Linked DNA regions of Homo sapiens. Each later gene encodes a partner of the first gene's protein in a complex. Each region holds a gene or a part of one and is shown on either strand. Other genes may lie near its edges. A codon is read from its position in the direction of its gene.

Evidence for each region. The genes of interacting proteins can lie anywhere in the genome.
Region 2: the proteins of RBBP4 (region 1) and ZNF512B are in contact, whole or in part, in a crystal structure (PDB 8TX8), measured with the Homo sapiens proteins. Residues at the interface, in NP_005601.1 of Homo sapiens: Ala39, Leu40, Glu41, Trp42, Pro43, Leu45, His71 (codon at 3,754), Thr72 (codon at 3,751), Ser73 (codon at 3,748), Glu126, Asn128, Arg129, Pro145, Glu179, Tyr181, Glu231, Asp248, Glu275, Asn277, Asp318, Glu319, Phe321, Thr338, Lys376, Glu395, Asn397; in NP_065764.1 of Homo sapiens: Lys419, His420, Arg421, Arg422, Lys423, Gln424, Pro427, Lys428, Lys429, Phe430.

Annotation. Positions count from the first base shown.
Region 1 is NC_000001.11:32,654,208-32,661,226, reverse strand, and holds part of RBBP4 (histone-binding protein RBBP4), read right to left. Parts: intron 3,801-7,019; coding exon 3,655-3,800; intron 1-3,654. UniProt on the Homo sapiens protein: Core histone-binding subunit that may target chromatin assembly factors, chromatin remodeling factors and histone deacetylases to their histone substrates in a manner that is regulated by nucleosomal DNA.
Region 2 is NC_000020.11:63,966,921-63,973,957, reverse strand, and holds the start of ZNF512B (zinc finger protein 512B), read left to right. Parts: upstream 1-4,027; 5' UTR 4,028-4,034; coding exon of another isoform or gene 4,035-4,144; intron 4,145-4,300; exon of another isoform or gene 4,301-4,440; intron 4,441-4,588; exon of another isoform or gene 4,589-4,716; coding exon of another isoform or gene 4,717-4,829; intron 4,830-6,005; coding exon of another isoform or gene 6,006-6,007; coding exon 6,008-6,128; intron 6,129-6,434; coding exon 6,435-6,577; intron 6,578-6,953; coding exon 6,954-7,037. UniProt on the Homo sapiens protein: Involved in transcriptional regulation by repressing gene expression. Associates with the nucleosome remodeling and histone deacetylase (NuRD) complex, which promotes transcriptional repression by histone deacetylation and nucleosome remodeling.

The DNA of each region.
Region 1 (7,019 bases):
TACAAAAAAGACACGTGCACTTGTATGTTCACTGTAGCATTATTCACAATACCAAAGATACGGAAATCAACCCAAGTGTCCATCAATGGTTGACTGAATAAAAAAATTTTTTTGGCTGAGTATAGTGGCTCATGCCTATAAGCCCAGAACTTTGGGAAGCCAAAGTGGGTGAATTGCAAGAGCCCAGGAGTTTTCAGACCAGCCTGGGCAACGTGGTGAGACCTACTCTCTACAAAAAATACAATGGAAATCAGCTGGGCATGGTGGCGCATGCCTGCAATCCCAGCTACTCAGGACGCTGAGGCAGGAGGACTGCTTGAGCCCAGGAGGCAGAGGTTGCAGTAAGCGGGGATTGTGTGACTGCACTCCAGCCTGGGTGACAAAGCAAGACTCCGCCTCAAAATAACAACAAAAACTCAATCATTTAGGAAAAAAAGGCTGGATTCTGATTCCATACCAAATACCAGAATGACAAAAGTTTTAATGGCCCAAACATAAAAGTCCCAGAAGACAACAATAGATGAACACATACTTTATGAAATCATTGAATGGGAGGTCTGAGGTGGGAAGATTGAGGCCAGAGTTCCAGATCAGCCTGAGCAACATAGTGACATGCCATCTCTTAAAAAAAAAAAAAATTAAGTTATCTGGGTGTGGTGGTGGGCGCCTGTAATCCCAGCTACTTGGGAGGCTGAATCAGGAGAATAGCTTGAATCTGGGAGACGGAGGTTGCAGTGAGCAGAGATTGCGCCACTGCACTACAGCCTGGGCGACAGAGCCAGACTCCGACTCAAAAAAAATAAATAAATAAAATAAAAATCCAGGTATGGTGGTGTATGTCTGTAGCCAGAGCTACTTGGGAGGCATAGGTGGGAGGATCGTTTGAGCCCATAAGGAGGCTGCAGTCAGCTAAGATCATGCCAGTGCACTCCAGTCTGGGTGACAGAGCAAGGCTCCATTAAAAAAGCAACTTACAGCTTCTAACCAATAACAGGACTTAAGATTTTAAGTTAAACAAGAAAATGATCTGCACCTATTTATTGGGTGGAGAAGGTATAATTTACCTTATATGAAGAGGTAACTCAAAAGGAAATACGGGCAAAAAACATAAATAAACAGGAGATGTAAGCTCAACATCACAAATAAAAAAAGCAATGTAAACTTGAGAATGAACTCTACTGAGTCCAGTGTTGGCAAAGGCATGGAGAAACAGACATAAATACATACGCTGTTGTGGGACTTCAAATCTTTTTCTGGAGTGCAACTTAGCAGTATCAATTATATTAAAAAACGGTCCTGCCCTTTGATACAACATTCTACTTAGAAAGTATTTCTATAGCAAAACTATGCTTTTGAAGTCAAAAAATTAGAAACCATCTAAATGTCTATCAGTAAGGAATAGTTAATTATGGTCTACTATACAGCCATCAAAAGGAGGCAGGTCTCCATCTACTAACAAAGATACATGCCCCAGATATATTAGGCCATAAAAGCAAATTATGAACCTATATTGCATATTCTATACCTGGCATACAAAATTACTCAACATATTTGTTGAATGAGTGATCCAATACACAGGATAAATCCTTCAGAAAACAATACATCACAATACATCCATTTAAGTGATATCCAGGGGAAAGGTTTTTCTTTTGTTTTGTTTTTGAGACGGAGTTTCCCTTTTTTTTTTTGCCCAGGCTGGAGTGCAATGGTGAGATCTCGGCTCACTGCAATCTCTGCCTCCCGGGTTCAAGTGATGCTCTTGCCTCAGCCTCCTGAGTAGCTGGGATTACAGGTGCGTGCCACTGCACATGGCTAATTTTGTATTTTTAGTAGAGACAGGGTTTCACTATGTTGGCCAGGCTGGTCTTGAACTCCTGACCTCAAGTGATCCACTGGTCTCAGCCTCCCAAAGTGCTGGGATTACAGGAGTGACTCACCGCACCCGGCCAGGGAAAGGTTTATTATATGGGAGAAGGGGTGCGTTTTTTACATTGTGTGTAAAATTACATATATATGTAAAACCACATATATGTGTGTGTATACATTTATATTGTGTGTGTGTAAAATTACATATATTTTATATATATAAAATTTATATGTATATATAAATTATATATATTACACACAATATAAATATATACACATGTAGTTTTACATATATAATTTATATATTTATATATAAATATAATACATTTATATTATCTAAAATTATATATAACTATATTTTACACACAATATATACACGCATGTAGTTTTACATATACATACATATATACGTATGTTTATATATAAATATAACATTTATATTGTGTAAAATTACACATATAATTTTACACACACAATATAAATATATACACACACATATATGTAGTTTTACAATTTATCACACTACCAATCAGAGTATTTGTGCCTCAGTAACAAGAACAAAAGGCAGGAGGATCATTTGAGGTCCGGAGTTCGAGACCAGCCTGACCAACATGATGAAACCCTGTCTCTACTAAAAATACAAAAAATTAGCCAGGCGTGGTGGTGCATGCCTGTAGTCCCAGCTGCTTGGGAGGCTGAGGCAGGAGAATCGCTTGAACCTGGGAGGTGGAGGTTGCAGTGAACTGAGATCGCGCCACTGCACTCCAGCCTGGGCAGCAGAGCGAGACTCCATCTCCAAAAAAAAAAAAAGGAAAGCGTTTAAGCATTTCATGAGCAGTTAAACCCTTAGGTTATGGCCTAAAAACAGGATATAATTAAACAACTCATTGGAACTTAGTTTCTATACACATAGAGAGTGCCATGGTTAAGTCATTTCTACCACTTTAAACCTAGAAAGGGTAATTTAAGTTAGTGTTTCTCAACCTTTTTTTTTTTTTTACTATTGCTCCTCTAAGAACTCTTTTAAGAACTATTCCCTCCCCACCAGTCCCATGAAATTTTAATACCATAGATATCCTATGTCCTCTGTGCATATCTGTGCTTTAAACAATCAACCAGTAAGATTATTTACACCTACTCACATACACAAACCAATTTTCACCTCCTTAGGGGTAGTTATCTCCCGTGTTAAGAATGTATAGCAATATGGATGGGTGCAGTGGCTCACGCCTGTAATTCCAGCACTCTGAGAGGCTGAGGTGGGTGGATCACCTGAGGTCAGGAGTTCAAGACCAGCCTGGCCAACTTGGTGAAACCCTGTCTCCACTAAAAATACAAAAATTAACTAGGCGTGGTGGCGGGCGCCTGTAATCCCAGCTACTCAGGAGGATGAGGCAGAAGAATCGCTTGAACCCGGGAGGCGGAGGTTGCAGTGAGAGAAGATCGTGCCACTACACTCCAACCTAGGCAATAGAGCGAGACTGAGTAAAAAAATAAAAAATCAAGAATGTACAGCAATAATATATATTTTTGCTTCTTTCAATTGCAGAAATCCTCCCCACCAGCACCAGCTGAGAAAAGTTTATTGTGAAGGTACAGAACCAAGGATGTGTTAAGTATTTCTTCTGATACCTAAAACTCTAATATAAATATAAATACCTACCATTGCAAACTCAGGCTTTCCCTCAACCTTAAATATTGTTTCTAAAGTCAGAGTTTACTTTATCAAAGTGCACATAACAGATATGACCCACACATCTTTACTTCTTTCACCTTTAAGATTCCTACCTCCTTTCTCACTGTCGTAGTGTGACGCATCAAACTGAGCATCATCATTAGGGAGCTGCACACTGGCTATAACAAGATGGTTTTGTTCATCCGATGTGTGTGTCCCCAGGACAAGTCGATGAATGCTGAAATCTTTCCCTTCTGGTCTGTAACGGCAATATATAGTCACTGTTCAAATTAGTAACATCAGGAGACGGCGAAGTCAACAATATACATGTATGTCAAAGTCACTAATACAACCAGGTTTTAAGAGAGGGGAAAAAGTCATTAAGGGTCTTTTCTTTCTTTCTTTTTTTATAAATAGAGTCTCACTCTTTCGCCCAGGCTAGAATGGAGTGGTGCGATCTTGGCTCACTGCAACCTCTGGCTCTCGGATTCAAGCGATTCTCATGCCTCAGCCTCCCGAGTAGCTGGGACTACAAGAACCTGCCACCATGCCTGGCTGATTTTCGTATTTTTAGTAGAGACGGGATTTCACCATGTTGGCCAGGCTGGTCTCGAACGCCTGGCCTCAAATTATCCACCCACCTCAGCCTCCCAACGTGCAGAGATTACAGGCAAGAGCCACCGTGCCTGGCCAAGAGCCATATTTTCTACTTAATTACTCTGGAGAAAAAGTAAAACGTTTTATGGAATAAAATGTGAATTAACTACTCACTCACTACCAACAGGTTGGAGGGAAAGCAAACCATTGTTGGGTATGCTAATAATTTTGCTTACTAAAACTTTCATTAAAAAGGAAAGAAGGGGAAAGGGTGCAAAGAAATTGAAAAGAATGAAAAAAGGGAAAGAAGAGTAAATAACATAAACCAATTTTTCAAACATTTACTAACCGCCTATCAATGGACACATCGCTCCAAACGCGATGGAAGTACAAAGACAATTAAGACATGATTCCTGACCTCAAAAAACCTGCAGCTGGGCCAGGCATGGTGGCTCACACCTGTAATCCCAGCACTTTGGGAGGCCGAAGAGGGTGGATTAATTGAGGTCAGGAATTCGAGACCAGCCTGACCAACATGATGAAACCCGGTCTCTACTAAAAATACAAAAATTAGCCGGGTGTGGTGGCGGTGCCTGTAGTCCTAGCTACTCAGGAGGCTGCGACAGGAGAACTGCTTGAACCCAGGAGGCAGAGGTTGCAGTGAGCCAAGACGGTGCCACTGCACTCCAGCCTGGGCGAAAGAGCAAGACTCTGTCTCAAAAAACAAACAAAACAAAAAAAACCGGCGGCTGGCTAATCCCAGCTACTTGGGAGGCTGAGGCACAAGAATCGCTTGAACCCGAAAGGCGGAGGCTGCAGTGAGCAGAGATCGTGTTACTGCACTCCAGCCTGGGTGACAGAGAAAGACTACTTCCTGTCTCAAAAAAGAAAAAAATAAATAAAAGAAAGAAAATTAAACAATTTGCCTAAGATCACACAGCTACTAAGTAACAAGTATGCTGAAGTCCAAATCTGACTTCTGATATGGGAAAGCACAGTGGGAGAGAAGGCCGATTAAAACTGACTATTTAGTGTTCTGAATGCCGTCTTAAGGCATTCTGTACTCCATACTGGGTCAAGGGCATCCACATCATCTGGGAACTTGTTAGAAACGCAAATTCTCACATCTACTCCAGACCCATTGAATCAGAAACTCTAGAAGGTGGGGCACAACTAACTGTTTCACAGTACCTCCAGCTGATTATGATGCATATAAAATTTTGAGAACCCCTGGCCTAGATGGGAAAGATGCTACACAACCAGAATTCATTGGGGTTTATAAATTGACTGCCTATAAAATGGAGAAAGAGAAAATGTCAAACTAAAGCCAATTATGATGAAAAGAAATAGGAACAACAGGAGAGAAAGTTGGGGTAAGGCCTTCACGTAAGGAATAATTCCATTTACAACATGTCAAACTGGGGAAGCCAGTAAGATATACCAGGGAAGACACGGGCAGGCAGAAGAAAAATCAGGAAAAGCTCTGGAGAAGTGAGGTCTAAAGATATCAATAGGAATTCTTCTGCACAGATGTCACAGGCAAAGCTCTGAGAGCTTCTACATTACACTGAAAAGAAATGAAGAGAGATATGAACAGAAAATTGGAATTACCTGTATGTAGAAGGTTAGACAAGAACCAGAAAAAGAATGAAGGAGAGGACAGTGTTACAGAACTACAACCGTGGTTTTTCTTTCTTTTTAAAGGGGGGAAACGGATCTGGGTAAACACCAGAAAAAGAACACACACAAAAGTAAACACTGCATCAGGGCTGCTTGCTTGTAAGTAATCCTCATCTTAAAAAACAAAAACAGGGCCAGGCACGGTGGCTCATGTCTGTAATCCCAGCACTTTGGGAGGTCAAAGTGGGAGGATCACTGGAGCCCAGAAGTTAAAGAACAGTCTGGACAACATAGCAAAAAAATTTTTCAAAAATTAGCCAGGTATGGTAGCGTGTGCCTGTAGCCCCAACTATTCCAGAGGCTGAGGCAGGAGGATTCCTTGGCCCAGGAGGTCAAGGCTGCAGGGAACTCTGATCGTGCCACTGCAACACAGTCTGGGCAACAAAGCAAGATCCTGTCTCAAAAACAATTTTCAGCCAGGTGCACTAGCTCACGCCTGTAATCCCAGCACTTTGGGAGGCCGAAGCGGGTGGATTACCTGAGGTCAGGAGTTCAAGACCAGCCTGGACAACATGGTGAAACCCCATCTCTACTAAAAATACAAAAAATTAGCTGGGCGTGGTGGCGGGTGCCTGTAATCCCAGCTACTTGGGAGGCTGGGGCAGGAGAATCGATTGAACCCAGGAGGCGGAGGTTGCAGTGAGCTCAGATCATGCCACTGCACTCCAGTATGAGTAACAAGAGTGAAACTCCGTCCTCCGTCTCAAAACAACAACAACAACAAAAAACAATTCTCACATTATTTATCTAGATTTGCTAATGCAGAAAACTACTAAGATGACAGTACAGATTTCAGCCTTGGGGAATTAAGTCTTTAATTCTTGCTTTCGAAACCTAGCTAGTCATTCTATTATATTACTTGGGAAGTTTCTGAAAAGTAGGGGTTCTAGAATGTTTAGTAGGTATGGGATGGCCAATATTTGTGATCCACTAGTCCAATAAGCACAATTTAGCATATGACTATAGTAAATGTGGAATCACCATTCCAGTACACTTCTCATTAAGTACTCTGCCACAAGTTCTTTTTCTTTGAGACAGGGTGGCAATCCCTAGCTCAGGCTGGAGTGCAGTAGCAGGATCACAGCTCAATGCAGCCTTGACCTCCCAAGGCTCAGGTGATCCTCCTGCCTCAGCCCCCACTGAGGAGCTGGGACTAACAGGTACGCACCACCATGCCCGGATAATATTTGTAATTTTAGTA
Region 2 (7,037 bases), on another chromosome or scaffold:
ACGCCCGACACGCTGGAAGGGACGGCCCAGACAGCGCGTGAGGGTCCCGCGGCTGCCGTGACAGAGGACCACGGAGGGGTGCTGAGAACAGCAGACATTCATTCTCTCTGGAGTTCTGGAGGCCGCAGTCCAAAATCCAGCTCCCTCAGGGCCTCCTGGGGCGACTCCTCACCTCTCCAGCTTCCAGTGGCTGCCGGGGGAACTCGGGCGCATGGGCATTACCCGTCTCCGCCTCTGTAATCAGATCACCTCCTCCTCTTCTGTCTCTCAAATCTCCCTCTGTCTCTCTCTTATAAGGATGCTTGGATTTGGGGCCACCTGGGTAATACAGGATAATCTCCTCATCACAAGATCTTTCATCACATCTGCAAATACCCTTTTCCCAATAAGATCCCATTCACACGTTCAGGGATAAAACACAAACATCTGGCCTGGTACGGTGGCTCACGCCTGCAATCCCAGCACTGTGGGAGACCAAGGCAGGAGTGTCGCTGAAGGCCAGGAGTTCAAGACCAGCCTGTGTGACATAGCAAGACCCCATCTCTACAAAAAACTTTTGAAACTAGCCAGGCATGGTGGCGCATACCCGTAGTCCCAGCTACTTGGGAGGCTGAGGCAGGAAGATTCCTTGAGCCCAGGAGTTCAAGGCACAGTGAGCTCTAACCACACAACTGCACTCCAGCCTGGGCAACAGAGCAAGACCCTGTCTCAAACACAGATCACAGCACACACACACACACACACACACACCACACACACACAGCAATCAGACACATAAGAGCATAAACCACACACAGAGACTCAATGACACTGACACCAGCAAACACCAACACACACAAACACATGCATGTAGTTGGCCAGGCACACAGACACAAAGGTATGTAACAGCATGCCCCCATACAAAGATGTCATTACACAAATACACAAATACTAGCATGCAGACACACAACGACCTCCTAACACATAGAAACACATGGGACACGGCACATCCCCGGTGCACACAAACACACTGTATTCCACGACACCCTGGCATGTAGATGCTCACAGAAAACAGCCGTCCCTCACCAGCACCCTGACACTGAGACATGCCGCAGCCTGGACACATGGATACTGAAATCCAGACACATCGTCCCCAGGTACCCTGAGGTCTAGTCGCCCAGATGCTAAAATACAGACAGGCATTGGTCTCACCTAGCATGGGACACTGTCATATCCTGACACGGCAATGTCCAAACAGGTCGCATGTATGGACACCCAGACTTACACAGGGAGAGCTGACGGCCTTGGCTGCACCTAAGGGGACACACACTGACCCCTCAGGAAATCCTGCTGGTCCCGTCCCCAGGGTGGGAAAGGTCAACAAGGGAAGGACGTGATGACGCTAGCCTCACAGGGAATGCCCTCCCCTTCCTCCTCGGGTCACACAGGCTGGTGTGCACTGGCCTCTCTGACTCAGATTCCCGAAGGAAGGATTGACTGACTGCCTCTTCTATAAGAGCCAACCTCCAATCTCCATGTGAGTGCTCTGCACCAGCCTTGAGTGAAGCAGATCCCAGGCCCCTTTGAGGAAAGGCAAAAATCTTACTGCCCAACCCCCTAGCAGTGCCTCTGAGCTTGCTCCACGGGGTACAGGGAAAGGGGCCGACTGGGCCGGAAGGGCCCCAGCGAAGGAGGCACACCTGGTAGTTCCATTTCCTGACTAGCAACTTCCAGCCCACATCAATTTTAAGGAGTCCAGAATATTTGTAGTATGCAAAAAGGGGCATTACGAAACTTTTAAAAGTCTGTTTTAATTATAAAAGTAATATATGCACATGGTTTTAAAAAAAATGCTGGCTGGGTGCGGTGGCGCATGCCTGTAATTCCAGCACTTTGGGAGGCCGAGGTGGGTGGATCACGAGGTCAGGAGTTCGAGACCAGCCTGGCCAGCTTGGTAAAACCCCGTCTCTACTAAAAATACAAAAAATCAGCTGGGTATGGTGGCACGTGCCTGTAATCCCAGCTACTCAGGGGGCTGAGGCAGAATTGCTTGAACCCAGGAGGCGGAGGTTGCAGTGAGCAGAGATGGCGCCACTGCAGTCCAGCCTGGGCAACAGAGAGAGACTCCATCTCAAAAAAAAAAAAAAAAAAATGCTCTATGGGCACAAGATGAAAACCCAGAGTCTCCTTGACTCTTCCCTCCTGAGGCCTGAGGCCTTCCCTGGGAGATGGGTGCTGTGAACAGGTAAGAATGGCCCTCCTAAGGCCAGGGGCAGTGGCTCACGCCTGTAATCCCAGCACTTTGGGAGGCCGAGGTGGGCGGATCACGAGGTCAGGAGATTGAGACCATCCTGGCTAACAGGGTGAAACTCCGTCTCTACTAAAAATACAAAAAAATTAGCCGGGCGTGGTGGTGGGCGCCTGTAGTTCCAGCTACTTGGTTGGCTGAGGCAGGAGAATGGCATGAACCCAGGAGGCGGAGCTTGCAGTGAGCCGAGATCGCACCACTGCACTCCAGCCTGGGCTACAGAGCCAGACTCTGTCTCAAAAAAAAAAAAAAAAAAAAATGCCCTCCTAGCCAGAGGCGGTGGGTCACACCTGTAATGCCCACACTGTGGGAGGCTGAGGCAGGAAGATGGCTTAAGCCCAGGAGTTCAAGACCAGCCTAGTCAACACAGAAAGACCTCGTCTCTATGAATACTTTAAAACTTAGCCAGGTGGGGTGGCACACACCTGTAGTTCCAGCTACTTGGGAGGCCGAGGTGGGAGGATTGCTTGAGCCCAGGTGGTAGAGGCTGCAGTGAGCCAAGATCACACCACTGCATTCCAGCCTGAATGACAGAGCGAGACCCTATCTCAAGAATAAAAAAAGAACGGAGAAGGAGAAAGGAGAGGAGGGGAAGGGAGGGGAGGAGAAGGGAGGGGAGGGGAGAAAAAGAAAGAGAGAGAAAGGAAGGAAGGAAGGAGAAAGGGAGGGAGGGAAGAGAAGGAAGGGAAGGAAGGAGAAAAGGAAGGGAGGAAGGGAAGGGAAGGAAGGAAGAAGGAAGGAAAGGAAGGAAGAAGGGAGGGAGGAAGGTAAGGGAAGGAAGAGAAGGAAGGGAGGAAGGGAGGGAGGGAAGAGAAGAGAAGGAAGGAAAGAGAAAAGGAAGGAAGGAAGAAGGAAGGAAAGGAAGGAAGAAGGGAGGGAGGGAGGGAAGGGAAGGAAGAGAAGGGAGGGAAGGAAGAAGGAAGGAAGGAAGGAGAGAAGGAAGTAAGAGAGGGAAGGAAGGAAGGCAGGCAGGCAGGCAGGCAGGCTCTCCTGGGGGAGATTCTTGTGGGTCCTGTGCCAGTCCCGTGTGGTGCCTCCTACCAGTCCTCTTTAGGAGAGCCAACCTTTCTCTGTCTCATTCATTCCCAAGTCCTGTGCTGTCAGTGCCCCGCCACCTCCAGACCACTCAGCCCACACCGGACCCCAGTGCCCCCTGCCTGCAGAAGCCCAAGCTGTGGGGCAGAGAAGGCCCTGGCACTGGTTCAGAACCACTGCCCCCAGAGCTGGGAAAGGGTGACCCAATGGTCAGTGACCCCAGTAAAACCCCATGGCCTTAAGCCGCCAGGCACCTCCGGGGGTCAGTCGCAAAAGTGGTCTCAGGGCCAGTTGGAAGAAGGCTGAATCCTGCGCTGCCGGTGCACGGCCCCCAGGGCCAGAGGTCAGGGTCCCGAGCCCAGAGACCACACTCGCCGCGCGGGCCAGGATGCGGCGGAATCAGGTCGCCTCAATCCGTGCGCGCCGGACTCCGGGCAGTGCCTAGCGCCCCTATCGGGCCTCAGTTTACCCCACTGTCCAAAAAACGTCCCCCGCCCCAGGACGGCAGAACCGGCTACTCTGGACTGCGGGCCCGGCCGACGGGGGCGGAACCGCGGAGCGGGGGAACCACAGGCCAGCGCCGGGCCCCCGCCCCCGCCCCCGCCCCCTCCCCGCCCCCTCCCCGTCGCGGAGCGGCCGCGGGAATAACGCGAGAGTTCGCCCCCTCCCCCCCGCAGTAAAACTGTCAAAGGTGGGAGGGGCGGGAGCGCGCATGTGCGCAGCGCGGCGCGCAGCCTGCGCCGCCCGGACCCAGCGCCCCGCGCCCCGCGCCCCCCGCCCCGGCCCGGCCCGGCCCGGCCGCAGCCCCGCTGGGCGCCGCAGGTAAGCGCCCGGCCGCGCCCCGGACCCATTCTGGCCGCAGCCCCGGCGCCCACCGCGCCCCGGATCTCGACCCTGCGCGCAGGCCAAGGAGGGGGCCGGGCCCGGAGCCCCCCCGCCCCCCGCCGCGCCCGAGCCCCCGCGCCCCGCGCCGGCGCCGTCTTCCTGCCTCCTCCTTCTCCAGAAAAAGTCGCCATTTTGGTTCACTGCCTTCGCCCCCCCACCCCGCGCCCGCGATCGGCCCTGCCCGGCCAGGCCGAGGCCCGCGCCCCGCGCCCGCTCCCGGCCCCAGGTGACAGGTGGGTGGCGAGGCTGGCCCCAGGTGCGCGTCCCTGGCCGCGCTCACCCGCGCGCCAGGCCTGGGCCGGGGTCCCGGGCCGAACGGCCTACGCGGCGGACCCGCTGCTGGCGTCTCCTGCGCGCAGCGCGGCGGAGCCCCCTCTCCCCGCGAGGGCTCTGTGTCCCCGCTGGGCTCGGGAGGGCCGAAGCCCCTTCTCATCCGGGGCGCCAGTCGCGTCTCTGCCTCCCAGGCTGGCCCTGGCCTCAGGCCCCACTATTCTGAATTCTTCTCCCAGGCTTCAGAAAAATTGGAAGTGGGGCCTCAGCAGGCACCTGCACCCCAGGCCACCGGGGTCATCAGGTGCTGGGATGACTCATGCCGGCCCTGTCTCCTTTCAAAAGTTGCAAAGTGAGGACTTCCAGAGAACTTTGTCCCCGGACACTGGCCTCCCCCTTGGCAATGGGCAGTGACTGTCCTGACCTCTGACCTCAGCTCTCTGGCCCTCCTGGACACAGCAGCCCCTTCCCATCCCCTCGGATCCAAGTTAATTAGAAGCTATCAGGAGGGGGCCACCTGCCCACTCAACCCTCACCCTGCTTCCTGTCCCACCCCCTTCCGTGGCTTTTCCACAGGGCTGGGCCCAGAGTCTCCTCTGCTCCCCAGCTCTCAGGATGGGGTTCCCAGCAGCACAGGCCCTCGGGGGCCCCAGCCTTGGGCAGCAGGGCGTTCTCTCTGGCCAGCATCCTGGGCCTTCACTGCTGGTGCTTCCACGACTTGTTTGGCTGAAGTGGTAGTGGTGGGTCTGTAGGCAGAGGACTGAGAGGATCCAGAGAGAGGTGGGGGGCGGGTCAGCCTGCCAAGCCTGGAGACAAGTCTGCGAAGAGCATCAGGTAGGATAGTTCAGCCGGCACAGGGACGGGAGCTTGGTGCAGTGCCAGATTGGGCCAGGGGTCCTCAGTGCCCACCTTGGCTGTTTTCCATCTGTGTCTGGAGAGAAGATTCCAAGGGTACCTGCCTGGGTAGGCTGGCATTGCATCAAGTCAGCATGGGAAGGTATGAGGGCCCCAGTGAGAAGCTGTGCCCCCACTGCTGGGCCTGGGCAGCTTGTGAGCCAGCAGCCATCATCAGAGACATAATTGGCCCCTGGAGGAATGTTGCCAGCCTCCTTCCTCCTGCGCAAGGCACCTCTCCCAGGGGCACACCCCCTCCCAGCACTGGGTAGGAGTGCATCACCTTCGGCATCATCTTCGCAGCTGTGGGGCTACGCACACTGTGGAGCTGCGTACACTGTAGAGCTGCGTGTTGGGAAGGGGGTCTGGAAGTTGGTGAGGGTCTCAGGACAGGACTAGATCCTATCAAACTGATGATGACTCCTGGGTTATCTGGGGAGACCTTGGCTGGCAGCCCCTCCCCTAAGTCAGAAGCCCCCATCACTTGCTTTTCCCACGTGAACAAAACCACAGGAAGGCAGGCCCCTCTTCCCTGACCAGAGAGGACCTGCCAAGGGCAGGGCTCCAGGGCAGCCTCACCACGTGTTCCAAGTGGGGCCCGTCAGGCTTCACAGATTGTCTACTTGCTCTGCAGAGATGACGGATCCTTTCTGCGTTGGAGGCCGTCGGCTCCCGGGGTCCAGCAAGAGTGGTCCCGGGAAGGATGGCAGCCGAAAGGAGGTCCGACTTCCAATGCTGCATGACCCACCGAAGATGGGTAAGAGGAGTCAGGGCCAGAGTCAATTCCAGATGGTTCTGGGCAGCAAGTGGTAGGAGTGGACCATTGCCCTGGGCGTCCTGTCTCCAGGTACCCAGCTAGGCCCCTAGAGTTCCCAAGGACCTTACCAGGGTAGGGGTTGCCTTGGACATAGCCCAGGGTCCTGGGTTCTTGTCCTCAGCTGGCCGCAGCCCCTGCCCCCGGTGCCCTCGTGTTGGGACAGCGGTGCTCACTGTGGGCCTGTGCAGCCGCCGGTGGTAGGCGGTGCTACACAGCTTCCGAGCCTTGCTGTGTTGTGTGCTGCAGGGATGCCGGTGGTCCGTGGTGGACAGACAGTGCCCGGCCAGGCCCCTCTCTGCTTTGACCCGGGAAGTCCAGCCAGTGACAAGACAGAAGGGAAGAAAAAGGGGCGGCCAAAAGCCGAGAACCAGGCCCTCCGAGACATTCCTGTGAGCTCCCTCAGGGCCATGGTGGGGCTCATGCTGGGGTCTCCCTATCCAGCCACTGCCCTGCCCTGATTTGTCCTCTGCACATCTGGTACCAACTCTATGCCTCAAGATGTGGGCACTGGCCTGGCAGACTTCACGTGGCCTGGCTTTGTATCTGATGTGCCGGGAGATTCGGGGGATCGCGTTGGTGGGCTCCTAGAACGGGTCTTGTGCATGGCCCCTGCCAGGTGGCTTGAATTCCCACTGCAGTCCCGAGGTTGAGGGGCTCATGTGGTGTGTGTGCCCTGCAGGCCCGGGGGGGCTCTGAGTCTGGGGCTCGGGCTGGCAGTGGCCCAGGTGGCTGCGGGTCAGCAGCACCACCTTTCCCCACGCCTAGCTCTCCCTGATGAACGACTGGAAGGATGAGTTCAAGGCACACTCGAGGGTGAAGTGTCCAAACTCAGGGTGCTGGCTGGAGTTC